Linked DNA regions of Homo sapiens. The protein of the gene in region 1 purifies or fractionates together with the protein of each later gene. This does not show direct contact. Each region holds a gene or a part of one and is shown on either strand. Other genes may lie near its edges.

What was found. The genes of interacting proteins can lie anywhere in the genome.
Region 2: the proteins of ATRNL1 (region 1) and PRKAR2A fractionate together in Homo sapiens (co-fractionation; one large-scale study listed by BioGRID). This does not show direct contact.

What each region holds. Positions count from the first base shown.
Region 1 is NC_000010.11:115,299,365-115,302,864, reverse strand, and holds part of ATRNL1 (attractin-like protein 1 isoform 1 precursor), read right to left. Parts: intron 2,832-3,500; coding exon 2,618-2,831; intron 1,011-2,617; coding exon 822-1,010; intron 1-821. UniProt on the Homo sapiens protein: May play a role in melanocortin signaling pathways that regulate energy homeostasis.
Region 2 is NC_000003.12:48,841,375-48,844,874, forward strand, and holds part of PRKAR2A (cAMP-dependent protein kinase type II-alpha regulatory subunit), read right to left. Parts: intron 1-3,500. UniProt on the Homo sapiens protein: Regulatory subunit of the cAMP-dependent protein kinases involved in cAMP signaling in cells. Type II regulatory chains mediate membrane association by binding to anchoring proteins, including the MAP2 kinase.

The DNA of each region.
Region 1 (3,500 bases):
TTCTCCCAAGCAGAAAGAGTTTCACACGGTCTTAAGTTCCTACAAGGCTAACAAGTGCTCCCAGTAGCATTATGCAATTCCCTTGGCAGCTGTATTCTGACGCCATTTGTGTTTGTAAGCAAGGCCACTCTCACCACATAGTACCCAGTATTAAATATTCATTCAGGTGCAGCCTTATCCTATAGTCCTTAGAAAACATGAGAGATCAGCAAGGGGCAAAATCTTTCTCCTGAAGTATAACTCATAGCAAGCCCAGTACTGCCCTGCTGACATAACTCTATGTGATTTCAAGACTGTGCATTCTATACTTGTAGCAGATATACCAACATTGATAAAATATTCTTGCCCCAAAATGCTTTCCTGAATCTAATCATGAGGGAAAAATTAGACAAATCCAAATTGAGAAACCTCCAAAACAATTGGTATAGGTTATTCAAAAATATCAAAGTCATATAAGGAAAAGATATGGGAATTGCACTAGATTAAAAGATACTAAAAAGGCTCACCAAAGCAATCTGTGATGTTTGAGGTGAACACTCTCATGAAGTGTTATACTGTCTGCAACATACACACAGTTCAGGGAAAAGAGGCTGTACATATGTGGCAATATGTTAATATTTAGGGTAAGATACTTAGTGGCATGCAAAATGATGATATAATAAAAATCAGAGGTTAACAGTACCAGTTGGTTTCAAAAGTAGCCGTAACAATATTTTTTCTCATTTTTTGAAACTTCTTCAAATATTTAATTCTTCTTTACATCACAGAAAAGTAAATTTACGTTGCTGTCAAGTGAAAAGTCACTCTAGATAAATACTTACGGGAGCAGGTGGCAGTTTGCCACTCTAGACATTGTCCATATGGAAAAGAGATGATATAGGCATTAGAGTCAACACATCGTTTCGTACTGCTGCACCACATACACTCCATGCCATTGCTTGTACAGTTGGAACATGATGTCCTCAGAGAGCATGGCTTTTTGCACGGCCTCGCATTTTGATTTGGACTAACTGGAATAAATAAACAAATACAATAATTTCATTTTTAACTTCATGTTAACACAATTGTATGGGTTTTCTTTGCTTTGCTGTTCAGGGCATGTTTCAATTAAGCCAACTGTGGCATTATAATATGATGAGGTAGATAAAAACAAAGATGATATATCAATACTTCTTAAAATTTTTATTAAATTTGAAAATGTATAACTCCTTTGAAATTTGTAATTCTTTACAAAGTATATAAAGTTGTATAATTTTAAGTATTATAAGCAGTAATGTAATCTATGACCTAGTTTGTATACCAGCACTGTTTATTTTCCCAGCCACAATTTTTTCCCAGCCACGTTTTCCATAGCATTCCACATCTTACAAAGTAAATGTCCTGTAAGTGAACATGTCTTTGATATAAACAAAGAATAAAAATACAGCTTATCATAAAATATTACACAAGATACAATATTTATCACAGCCTTTAAGATGGCCATTATTTAAAAATAATAGGAAATAAATATTGGCAAGGATGGAGAGAAATTGAAACCTTTGTGCACTGCTGGTGGGAATGTGAAAAACAGAATTGCCACATTATTTTGTAATTCTGCTTCTGGCTATATATATATACCCCAAAGAAGTGAAAGCAAGAAGCTGAACAGTTATTCATACACCCACATTCATAGCAGCATTACTCACAATAGCAAAAAGGTAGAAGCAACGCAAGTATCCATTGATAAATGAATGGATGAACAAAATGTAGTATTTACATATAATGTAATATTGGTCAACCTTAAAAAGGAAGGAAATTCTCATATATCCTACAACTTGGTTAAACCCTAAAGACATTATGCTAAGGGAATAAGCCAGTCACAAAGCACATATACTGTATGATTTCACCATATGAGGTACCTGAAGTAGTAAATTCATAGAGACAGAAAGTAGAACAGTAGTTGCTAGGGACTGTAGGGGGTGGGGTGGAGGAAATGGAGAGTTATTGTTTAATGGGTACAGATTTTTAGTTTTGCAAAATGAAAAAGTTCTGGAGCTAAATGGTGATGATGTTTGCACAACAGTGTCAAAGTATTTAATGCCATTGAATTGGCATTAAAATACATTTACAATGGTTAAAATGGTAAATTTTAAGTACATTTTACCATGATAAAAATATAAGATTTAAAAGAAAAGAATTCAATATTCCTTTCTTACTTAACAAAAATCCATTTCAGAAGATGTAACAAAAATGTTTCTTTTTACTTGATAACTGAAATATGTCTACAAGAGTAAAAGGAGTCCCAATTAGCCATTAATCTTAAAAGCAAATCTTCTTCCCAAACACTATCATGATAAAAGTAAAAGACATTAATGAATTAAGAATAGATTATTGTCATATTATAAGTAACTACAACCACAATCTCACTATTTGAACCAACAAAGTTTGCATAAAATAATAATATTATGTTATTTTCACAAGTTAATGCTGAGATCACTAATAGTAAGTGGGGAAGAATGTGTATAAAAATAAAATTTACATAAATATCATAGAATAAGACTACACCCTAGAAGGAAGGAATGAGAAGATGGGTGGGAAACATACTTTTAAAGGAATGCTAATTTACTGGACTACTTACCAACAGGTTTTTCACAGACAAGGCCATTTGCCATAGATGTACAAGGATTAGCTTTTAAGCCTGCCACTGCAGCCCTTTCCAGATATGCACAAAACCCAGAATCATTGGGTTCGCCAGGAAGCCACTGTAGTGTTGTGTTTGTAAAAGGAGACATGTCTTCCCATCCCCAATAGGATATATTGATCTTGCGCAAGCCTACCCAAGGTGATACTTTCTGTAAACAACAGGAAAAGGGGCATTCAAAGAAAGTTAGATGTAAAAATATGGCATATTCCTTAGCAAATAGTTCACTATCATTAAAAATTATATTTGAAAATATATAAAGCTGCCTTTCTAATGAGTTTTAGTACTAAGAATAATTAACAATTATAGCATATTTTGGAGAATGATGTAGAATAGAACACTGTTTTTAAAACACAGGTTTTATATTTAGCTACATGATTGGAATAATTTATTTAGCCTTCATGAACCTCAGTTTACTCTTCTATAAAGTGGAGATATAATTATCTATCTGATAAGGTAGGATTATTTAAAAACTTAACATATTGTTATTGCTGCTGCTGCTTCTATTACTATTACTACTATCAATGTAATCAGTTATAGGATTAAGACTCTAAAGATAAATTGCCATTATCTGCATTGTGAAACTAGAAAATAAAATCAACAAACAATATATAGAGTCTGAGTGAAGACTTCATAACAAGACCTAGCAAAAAGACTTACAGAAGAATAACTGCCTCTCTCTTAGCTCAGACGTCTACAAATAAATCTGGACTTCTATATGATTTTTGGATAAATTTATGTCATATAATTTTATTAACAAAAAACAACAAAAGTAATAAAATCTGATGCTCGTGCCTATAATTTAACTAAGATTGACAAA
Region 2 (3,500 bases), on another chromosome or scaffold:
CTCTACTAAAAATACAAAAAATTACCCAAGTGTGGTGGCGCATGCCTGTAATCCCAGCTACTCGGAAGGCTGAGGTGGGAGAATTGCTTGAACCAGAAGGCAGAGGTTGCAATGAACCAAGATCCCGCCACTACACTCCAGCCTGGGTGACAGAACAAGACTCTGTCTCAAAAAAAAAAAAAAAAAAAAAAAAAGGTGTTTTGGTTATATACCTAGGAGTGAAATTGCTCTACCTATGATAATTCTATGTTTAACTACTTTTTGAGGAACCACCAAATTGTTTTCCACAGCAGCTGAACCATTTTACATTCCCATGAGTAATGCACAAGGGTTCCAACATCTCCACATCTTGGCTATTTTCTGTTTTTAATACCAGCCATCCTAACAGGTATGAAGTATCTCATTGTATGCAATGTATTTTTCATTTATTATTTGTAAATAGAAATCCACCTTGTAGTGATTTCTATAATTATGTAGCGCAGCCACCTGAGACACCAAAAATACTTAAATACCAATAAAATAGGGTACAAAGATTTTAAGTCAACTCAATTTTGAAAAAGGTATCAAAGATGACAAAGAATGACGATATAATACAAAAACTTGTCACTGAATTATAAATTACCTTGGACAGTATGGCCATTTTCACTATATTGATTCTTCCTATCCATGAGCATGGAATGTTCTTCCATTTGTTTGTATCCTCTTTTATTTCATTGAGCAGTGGTTTGTAGTTCTCCTTGAAGAGGTCCTTCACGTCCCTTGTAAGTTGGATTCCTAGGTATTTTATTCTCTTTGAAGCAATTGTGAATGGGAGTTCACTCATGACTTGGCTCTCTGTTTTTCTGTTATTGGTATATAAGAATGCTTGTGATTTTTGTGCATTGATTTTGTATCCTGAGACTTTGCTGAAGTTGCTTATCAGCTTAAGGAGATTTGGGGCTGAGACAATGGGGTTTTCTAGATATACAATCATGTCATCTGCAAACAGGGACAATTTGACTTCCTCTTTTCCTAACTGAATAGCCTTTATTTCCTTCTCCTGCCTAATTGCCCTGGCCACAACTTCCAACACTATGTTGAATAGGAGTGGTGAGAAAGGGCATCCCTGTCTTGTGCCAGGTTTCAAAGGGAATGCTTCCAGTTTTTGCCCATTCAGTATGATATTGGCTGTGGGTTTGTCACAGATAGCTCTTATTATTTTGAGATACATCCCATCAATACCTAATTTATTGAGCGTTTTTAGAATGAAGGGTTGTTGAATTTTGTCAAAGGCCTTTTCTGCATCTATTGAGATAATCATGTGGTTTTTGTCTTTGGTTCTGTTTATATGCTGGATTACATTTATTGATTTGCGTATATTGAACCAGCCTTGCATCCCAGGGATGAAGCCCACTTGATCATGGTGGATAAGCTTTTTGATGTGCTGCTGGATTCAGTTTGCCAGTATTTTATTGAGGATTTCTGCATCAATGTTCACCAAGGATATTGGTCTAAAACTCTCTTTTTTGGTTGTGTCTCTGCCTGGCTTTGGTATCAGGATGATGCTGGCCTCATAAAATGAGTTAGGGAGGATTCCCTCTTTTTCCATTGATTGGAATAGTTTCAGAAGGAATGGTACCAGTTCCTCCTTGTACCTCTGGTAGAATTTGGCTGTGAATCCATCTGGTCCTGGACTCTTTTTGGTTGGTAAGCTGTTGATTATTGCCACAATTTCAGATCCTGTTATTGGTCTATTCAGAGATTCAACTTCTTCCCAGTTTAGTCTTGGGAGAGTGTGTCGAGGAATTTATCCATTTCTTCTAGATTTTCTAGTTTATTTGCGTAGAGGTGTTTGTAGTATTCTCTGATGGTAGTTTGTATTTCTGTGGGATCGGTGGTGATATCCCCTTTATCATTTTTTATTGCGTCTATTTGATTCTTCTCTTTTTTTCTTTATTAGTCTTGCTAGTGGTCTATCAATTTTGTTGATCCTTTCAAAAAACCAGCTCCTGGATTCATTAATTTTTTGAAGGGTTTTTTGTGTCTCTATTTCCTTCCAAGGTAATTTATAGATTCAATGCCATCCCCATCAAGCTACCAATGACTTTCTTCACAAAATTGGAAAAAACTACTTTAAAGTTCATATGGAACCAAAAAAGAGCCCGCATCGCCAAGTCAATCCTAAGCCAAAAGAACAAAGCTGGAGGCATCATGCTACCTGACTTCAAACTATAATACAAGGCTACAGTAACCAAAACAGCATGGTACTGGTACCAAAACAGAGATATAGATCAATGGAACAGAACAGAGCCCTCAGAAATAACTCCGCATATCTACAACTATCTGATCTTTGACAAACCTGAGAAAAACAAGCAATGGGGGAAGGATTCCCTATTTAATAAATGGTGCTGGGAAAACTGGCTAGCCATATGGAGAAAGCTGAAACTGGATCCCTTCCTTACACCTTATACAAAAATTAATTCAAGATGGATTAAAGACTTAAACGTTAGACCTAAAACCATAAAAACCCTAGAAGAAAACCTAGGCATTACCATTCAGGACATAGGCATGGGCAAGGACTTCATGTCTAAAACACCAAAAGCAATGGCAACAAAAGCCAAAATTGACAAATGGGATCTAATTAAACTAAAGAGCTTCTGCACAGCAAAAGAAACTACCATCAGAGTGAACAGGCAACCTACAAAATGGGAGAAAATTTTCGCAACCTACTCATCTGACAAAGGGCGAATATCCAGAATCTACAATGAACTCAAACAAATTTACAAGAAAAAAACTAACAACCCCATCAAAAAGCGGGCAAAGGATATGAACAGACACTTCTCAAAAGAAGACATTTATGCAGCCAAAAGACAAATGAAAAAATGCTCATCATCACTGGCCATCAGAGAAATGCAAATCAAAACCACAATGAGATACCATCTCACACCAGTTAGAATGGCAATCATTAAAAAGTCTGGAAACAACAGGTGCTGGAGAGGATGTGGAGAAATAGGAACACTTTTACACTGTTGGTGGGACTGTAAACTAGTTCAACCATTGTGGAAGTCAGTGTGGCGATTCCTCAGGGATCTAGAACTAGAAATACCATTTGACCCAGCCATCCCATTACTGGGTATATACCCAAAGGACTATAAATCATGCTGCTATAAAGGCACATGCACACGTATGTTTATTGCAGCACTATTCACAATAGCAAAGACTTGGAACCAACCCAAATGTCCAACAATGATAGACTGGATTAAGAAAATGTGGCACATATACACCATGGAATACTATGCAGCCATAAAAAATGATGAGTTCATGTCCTTTGTAGGGACATGGATGAAATTGGAAACCATCATTCTCAGTAAACTATCGCAAGGACAAAAAACCAAACACCGCATGTTCTCACTCACAGATGGGAATTGAACAATGAGAACACATGGACACAGGAAGGGGAACATCACACTCTGGGGACTGTTGTGGGGTGGGGGGAGGGATAGCATTAGGAGATATACCTA